Homo sapiens: one gene and its partner. The protein of the gene in region 2 interacts with the protein of the main gene of each other region in a pairwise test. Each region holds a gene or a part of one and is shown on either strand. Other genes may lie near its edges.

The links. Proteins that work in one complex are often made in the same cells at the same time.
Region 1: the proteins of DERL2 (region 2) and SFT2D1 interact in binary tests that used the Homo sapiens proteins (3 or more experiments, as listed by UniProt).

Annotation. Positions count from the first base shown.
Region 1 is NC_000006.12:166,328,911-166,332,663, forward strand, and holds part of SFT2D1 (vesicle transport protein SFT2A), read right to left. Parts: intron 2,498-3,753; exon of another isoform or gene 2,475-2,497; intron 1,338-2,474; coding exon 1,251-1,337; intron 680-1,250; coding exon 597-679; intron 1-596. UniProt on the Homo sapiens protein: May be involved in fusion of retrograde transport vesicles derived from an endocytic compartment with the Golgi complex.
Region 2 is NC_000017.11:5,484,195-5,487,947, forward strand, and holds the start of DERL2 (derlin-2), read right to left. Parts: upstream 1,968-3,753; coding exon 1,875-1,967; coding exon of another isoform or gene 1,669-1,874; intron 1,023-1,668; coding exon 957-1,022; intron 1-956.

The DNA of each region.
Region 1 (3,753 bases), on a different chromosome or scaffold from region 2:
GTAGCCCTCTGTCACTACTGCCACACCCTGTTTTAATTCTCTGCACAGCACCAATGCCATCCCATCTTTTTCTGGCTTATCATGTGAACATCTTCTTCATTAAAATGTAAGCTCCACAAGAACAAAGCCTAGAGTGCAGCAGCTCCAAGCCTGGGCTCCGGATTCCCACCTCAGCCATGGTGGGATCCCACCTCCGGATTCCCACTGCCTGCAGGATTCCCACCTCAGCCATGATTTAGGTTCATCGCCATGGGCAGCACTGACTCCCCTGCTCTGTGCTATTATCTCCAGTTATAAACGGGGATGATAATACTGCCTACCTCACAAGCTCGTCATAATACATACAAAACACTTAGAACAGTCCCAGACACACATTAAGTGCCCCACAAAGGCTGGCTATTCCTAGCACTAATACCGTCTGTTATGGGAGACGGCATACAGCAGCAGTCAATACATATTTATTTAATGAATGTAAATCCTGTGGCTGAATTCACAGTATGTACAGAACTACATAAACATCCTACTGGGAAAGTGCTTATTAGAAAGGTAAATTTGGTAGCAAGAGCAAACAAGATATTTTGAGAAGCCAAACGTACCTGGCTAACGCAGCAAGATTGCCGAGGGTATAAAACACTGCAAAAAGCTTTATGCCGCCCGGAAGCCACAGCAATCCAGTTCCCTAAGTTAAGATATTATAGTTATTTTAAAATAATTTTATGATTTTAATGGTTAAAATATAAACGTGCTACTGCAGTAATACAATACCAATATTATGTAATATGTTTAAATACAAATCTGCTTGTAGACAGTCTAGTCTGATTACACAGAAAAAATAGTTAATTTTCAATGTTATACACTAACTTGAATCTTCTTCCTATTTGCACTAGCATATATAAATGAGCCATAACAAAACTTTGTGCTTACCAGTAAATCTCAGTCTATTTAAGTTAAATTTTCATGCTAAATACCAAGTATGAAAAGGTAATAAACATCTAAATTACTGACTCTCCAGATCTTTTAACACATTGATACATTTTTCTTAAATTATTTCAACTATCCACAAAACTCCCCAAAATACTAATTTCTACGTATTTTCATTGATCTCTACCCCTTTATTTTAGTTTAATAAATACCTTCCACCAAAATGGTCTAACAGGGATTTAGTAAAGGACATTAGTTTTTGGTACTAAATGGAATTATTAGTCTAATACAAAATAAAAATTATTAAACAATATAAAGCCTTAACTCACAAGAATAGAAAAGAAAACGCCACATACGAAGCAGATGGCAAACCATTTCAATCTGGTGTTGAAACTAAGGGATGAGGCATCCAGGACCTTAATAAAAAATGGGAAAATTTAGAATATAGTCTTAATTCACTACCAATCTGATTCTTTATACTAAATTAAAGCAAAGTTTTAACACATAGTCTGAATCATTTATTTTGCATATCACAGTGTCATTCAAGAATACTAAGATTCCACGGTTGTTAAGGGTAATATGACCATGGTCTGGGTAGCAGATGATGCTGAGGAATAACCATTAATTTTGCAAAGTCTGATAATATGTTTCACAAAAGTCCTTATCTGTTAGGGACAGCCGATATACACTGATATGGATAAAATGACATATAAGATATATTATAAAATATACAAAGATTAAAAAAACACAGGGGGCAGATGCAACAGGCCAGGCAAAACACTGAAACTGCAGAGGCTGGGAAAGAGTACACAGGTTCATTATCTGTTCTCTCTGCCTCTGCAGGACGAATTCCTCAGGCTCCTAGATGCCAGAGTCTGAGTGCATCCGAGTGCATCCGCACTCAGTGCAAGTCCTGCTGGAGGCAGAGGCTGGCCTTCCACACGCCACCTCCCTTCGGCCGGTCATTGGCTGCAGGCCAGGGGTGGGGTGGGGTGACTGCACCCCATGGAGGGTAGAGGACGCTGGCCACCTACAGGAGGCAGCCTGAGCAGCCCCAGCAGAGACGATCACAGCACGCACCAGACGGTACCCGTTCTAAGCTCTTTCAGTCCAACCCATGAAAGTTTTGGGCCCCTCCTCCACCACTGTAAAAACATACTGTGAAATGATCATTTATTCTAGAGCAACAGCATTCCTATATACCATGCAAATTCTAGCCAAATTATGTGGGGAAAAAAGTAGAAATTACTAAGTCTACTTTGTACAGTATGATAACCCAGCACACAGTAGTGGTGAAATAAACACACTCAGATTACTAATTATACTATTAAAATATATTTTCCAAATAAGGCTAAAAAAGTATCTATCAACAGCAGCTGTGCAAGAAACTAGAAATATACAGCAAGGATTTATATTCCAAAACTTAAATTTCTAATTTATACTACCACATCCACTTAAAAATAAGACTACATGCTTATATTTTCAAGAATAATGAAAAATAAGAGAAAGTTCTATATGCAACAGTTCAAAATACATTTGGTTACATTCCTTACCTCAAGAGATTAATCTGTGAATCCTTATGTAGCATGAAAAGCAGATAAAAATAACTAAGTATTCTGTAATGAAACATATATCACTCTTTAACACATTTTAAATGTTTTTTAAGTTTTAATTCACATTCTTGTTTCCAGCAATGTCATCTGTTTATGGCAAAACTAAACACTTGGTTTTAAACAAAGAGTGAAATTGCCTATAAAAACATCTACATTTCATTCTTACTGATCAGGAAGAATATACACTAAGTATATTTTAACTACGCAGGCCAGAATAAACTGCAAAGACTGAATTACATAGTAAATGATCTGTTAAAAAAAATGGAGACACGCCCATCAGCTTCATTTAACCATCCCACAAAGTATACATAGGTCAAAACATCACGCTGTACACAATAAATGTATATAACTTTTATTTGTCAATTAAAAATGGAAAGAATAATGATTTCTAAAGGTTCGTGTGAGTCCACAATGCTGTGAGGATTTAGTGAGAGGAAAAAGCATCCATTTTTCCTTCTTTTCCAAGTTCAAATCACCCCATTGTTCACAAGTTCAATCGCTGCTTTTCAATAGCCAGTTTTTCTCTCAGCAAGGAAACAGCACGGCTATTTGTATAATAGTAGGTATTTTTTCCTCCTATTGCCATCTTCCGTGTATTGATCTTTAAAACGAAACAGCAGGACAAATTATTTCCACTTGTAAACATGGAATATTCAATCCACAAGCAAATGATTTGTCTCAAGTCTTGCAAATTGTCTAGGATACGAAACAACTATACAGATTTCCTGACTCCTAATTGGGAAAACTGTGATATGCTTCAACATGAAAGAAAACCTGGCAGTGCATCTTCCAACTAGGAGACAGAAGGAACCCTGACGTCTGCTTATCACAAGCATTTTTTTGAGACAGAGTCTCACTCTGTTGCTCAGGCGCCATCTCAGCTCAATGCAACCTCCGCCTCCCAGGTTCAAGTGATTCTCCTACCTCAGTCTCCCAATTAGCTGGGACTACAGGTCCACGCCACCAGGCCTGACTAATTTTTTGTATTTTTAGTAGAAACGGGGTTTCACTATGTTGGCCAGGCTGGTCTCAAACTCCTGACCTCAAGTGATCACCCGCCTCGGTCTCCCAAAGTGCTGGATTACAGGCATGAGCCACGAGCCACTGCACCCAGCCTGCTTATCATAAGCATTTATGTGCTGCTTTCTTTTACCACCAATCAGGAGCAATCCCACCAAAACCAGCAACTTTGTTAATCTCTTAGTCTTAGAAAAGAAAT
Region 2 (3,753 bases):
CCCCTACTCCAACTATGGTAAGATCATCCTGGAACAGAAAAATCCATCTCTCTTTTAGCATTTTATTTTGAGACAGGGTTTCGCTCTTGTCTCCCAGGCTGGAGTGCAATGGCACAATCTCGGCTCACTGCAACCTCCGCCTCCCGGGTTCAAGTGATTCTCCTGCCTCAGCCTCGCCAGTAGCTAGGATTACAGGCATGTGCCATCACGCCTGGCTAATTTTTGTATTTTTAGTAAGAGACAGGGCTTTACCATGTTGGCCAGGCTGGTCTTGAACTCCTGACCTCAGGTGATCTGCCTGCCTCAGCCTCCCAAAGTGCTGGGATTACAGGCGTGAGCCACTGTGCCCAGCCTCTTTTGGCATTTTAATCACTGGAAAGGACCATCTCCCATTGTAATCTAATAAACCACCATATAGCTTTAGATGTTTGGAATTTGGTTAGTATGATCTGATCCCTGGAAGACAGATCACAATTTAAAAGCACTAACAGAATTGAGTTTCTGGACCATGGTGATAACACCAAGGTGGTGGGTGTGCCTAGGTGCTGAATGGACAAAATAAGGCCATCCCTGTGAGACAACCCCTAAGCAGCTAGCTAGTCAGCCTCCTCTCATAGGACAACGTTAAGTCTAAACCAGTGATTTCCAAATACAGGAACTGGACACATCAAAACGATGCAGGGAACTTTAAAAATAAAACACAGATTTTAATTCCTACCCTTGCAAATTCTGATTTGGTACTTGTTGAGGAGCTTGAGAATCTCTTCAAAGTTCCCTAAGGGATTCTCAAGTCCAACCAGGCTGCAGAATCACTGCTTTATATCCTGACAAGGCAACTTATAATCAAAGGTCCCCACTGGGTTCTTTTTTAGGATAGTGTATAACAGGATTTGCTACTAAACAGTAAGAAAAAGAAGAAACTGAAGCATTAATCACTATTGTGATGAACCACTTACTTGAAAGTGTTTAAAGATTAATTCAGGATTGAAGTACAACTGAAAAGGTGTGATCAATTCCAACTGCTGAAATAGAAAAAGAGCTTCTTAAAGCAAATCAAGAAACAAAATTTCATCATTTACAACAAAGAATTAGTAGGTCTAGCAATTTCCAACTCTCGGTCACTTAGACGTGATTTCCTTTAAGCCTTTCTTCTTAGGCCAGAGGAAGAGGTTGGTAAAGAATTCTCTAGGATTGGTAGAATTCTTTGTATCCTCAATACCTAACACAAAAAAGTCTGTTTTATGTTGCAATAGTTGAGGCTGACATGAAGAAATGAGGCAGACAGGTGGTGATATTTTAGACACAGGACAAATAAAAACAGCTGCTATGAATCTACCCACCACATGGGCACCACCTGAAACAGCTGTATGAAACAACAAAACTCACTTGAAATAACGGAGACTGGAGACCCTGCCACCGTTAGGGCTGGGTACCTCCAGCTAGCCCCTTATTTAGATCCAGAGACCCTTTTTATTATAAGCCATTCCCCTCTCGACAGTTTCCAGCTTGCTTTCCCCATTCCTGTTTCTTCACTAAACGGACCTTCCTCTCACTAGTCACCATGGTACCACCTGGCCATTGGCAGAGCTCTCGGACACATTTCTTGGGTGGGAGGCTCCCGCAACCCTAACCCGCTATAGGTCCGGCGCTCATCTCTTAGAAACTGACCTGACCCCCCATGAAGCAGCACTCCCTTCTCGCGTCACTGGATAAGCATTCTTGGCGCCAACTCGAACCCCAGAGTAATCCCTGTACGCCTCCACCCATCCCCGGGACCAGCCCCTCTGGGCCTCCCCGAGGCCCAAACCCCAGTTTCCTGAAGACCCAGTCATATCCAGCCCAGATAATGAGAAGGTGGCACTGCAGCTGCTCACCACGGCGGCGGTGGTGAGGACGCAGGCAGTGGTGTAGGCGCGGCTGACCGGTGGGATCTGCAGGTACTCCAGCCGCAAGCTCTGGTACGCCATCTTCCCCACCGTCGCCTGCCCCACCCCCCACCCACCCCATTTCCCCTTCCGCCAGCAGGCCCCGGCGGCGGGGCGGGCCCAAAGGCCCCCCGCCCACTTTAGTTTTCCCGCGACTGCCCAATCAACGCCAAGCAACCGCAATCCGTAGAGACCTAAGGAACGCACATCCGCCAATCACGAGTTGCGTCGCCACCGCCCCCCCCCAGCGCCCCATCTCCCCACCCTCTCTTCTCCACCAGCCAACGTCCGGGAAAAACGAGTAAGTACAGGTTCCTTCTGCCAATCCCCGCCGGCCACAGCTAACTTTCCCGCCCGGCCCCTTTCTGTCATAATTGAGGTGTCCACAACCAGCCAATCAGGAACGCGAGAGTATCCCGCGTTTGCTTTCGCTCGCCGAGGCGCGTATCAGTCGGAATTTTGGGGAGCCAACCGCGCCGTCTGTCCCTGGCAAGCCAGCGGCGGTTTAAAGGAGGTGGCGGGAAGCCTGTGTGTGCTTCAAATCGTCACCCTCATGGTCGCTCCGGTAAGTGCTGCGGGGCAGCATTTTCTCTGAGGAGGAGCGGGGACGGGCGAGACTGGCATAAGCGTCTTCGCGAGGGAGCAAGGCGGCCTGTGGGTCGGCCTCACCCCGGCCTCCGACCTGAAGATCCCAGCATGCAGCGCGGGCGCGGGGCCCGACGGAAGCCGGGAGCCGGCCGGAAGCAGTTCCTGCGCTCTGGCTTCTGGGTCCTGTCCTGCGCGATCGCGGGGTCTTAGACAGCTCAACTCGCCGAGATGACCTGGGCACCTCTGCGTTGAATCGGCAAATACTGATCAAGCCGCATTTATTCTGCTCTCAGGAACTCTAAGTCTAGCAGAGAAGATGAGGCGGTAGAAGTTCATCAGTCAGTGCCCGAAGAGAGGTCCTAATGGGAATTCGAAGAAAGGAGTTAATCAAGGAAGTGTATTTTTTTGTTGTTGTTTGAGATGGCGCCCACCTGTAATCCCAGCTACTTGGGAGGCTGAGCTAAGAGGATCACTTGAACTTAGGAGGCAGAGGTTGTAGCGAGCCGAGATCATACCACTGTACTCCAGCCTGGGCGAAAGAGTGACACTTTGTCTCAAACAACAACAACAACAAGAAAATTAGCCAGGCATGGTGGCCTGCACCTGTTGTCCCGGCTACTTGGGAGACTGAGGTGGGAGGATTGCTTGGGCGCGGGAGGTTGAGGCTGCAGTGATCTGTGATCGTGCCACTGCATTCCAGCCTGGGCGACAGAGCGACAACATGTCTCAAAAGAAAAAAAGAAAAACAGAAAGAAATCCTACCTTACATATACAGCCAAACAGTTATAACCACTCCATATTTAACCATTACAAACGTAAATTTTTATTTTATTTTATTTTTTGAGACAGAGTCTCGCTCTGTTGCCCAGGCTGGGGTGCAGTGGCACAATCTCGGCTCACCGCAACCTTCGCCTCTCGGGTTCCAGTGATTCTCCTGCCTCAGCCTCCCGAGTAGCTGGGATTGCAAGTATCCACCATCACGCCTGGGTAATTTTTGTATTTCTAGGAGAGATAGGGTTTCGCCATGTTGGCCAGGCTGGTCTCGAACTCCTGACCTCAGGTGATTCGTCCATCCGGCCTCCTAAAGTGCTGAGATTACAGGCATGAGCTATCGTGCTCAGCCTACAAACATAAATTCTTAAGATTGGCTGCATCTTATCTTCCCATAAGATTTGACTGTACTGCTTATTGCAAATTATTTCATAAAGTGCGTCCTAAATTCACCTGATAATTGAAGTAG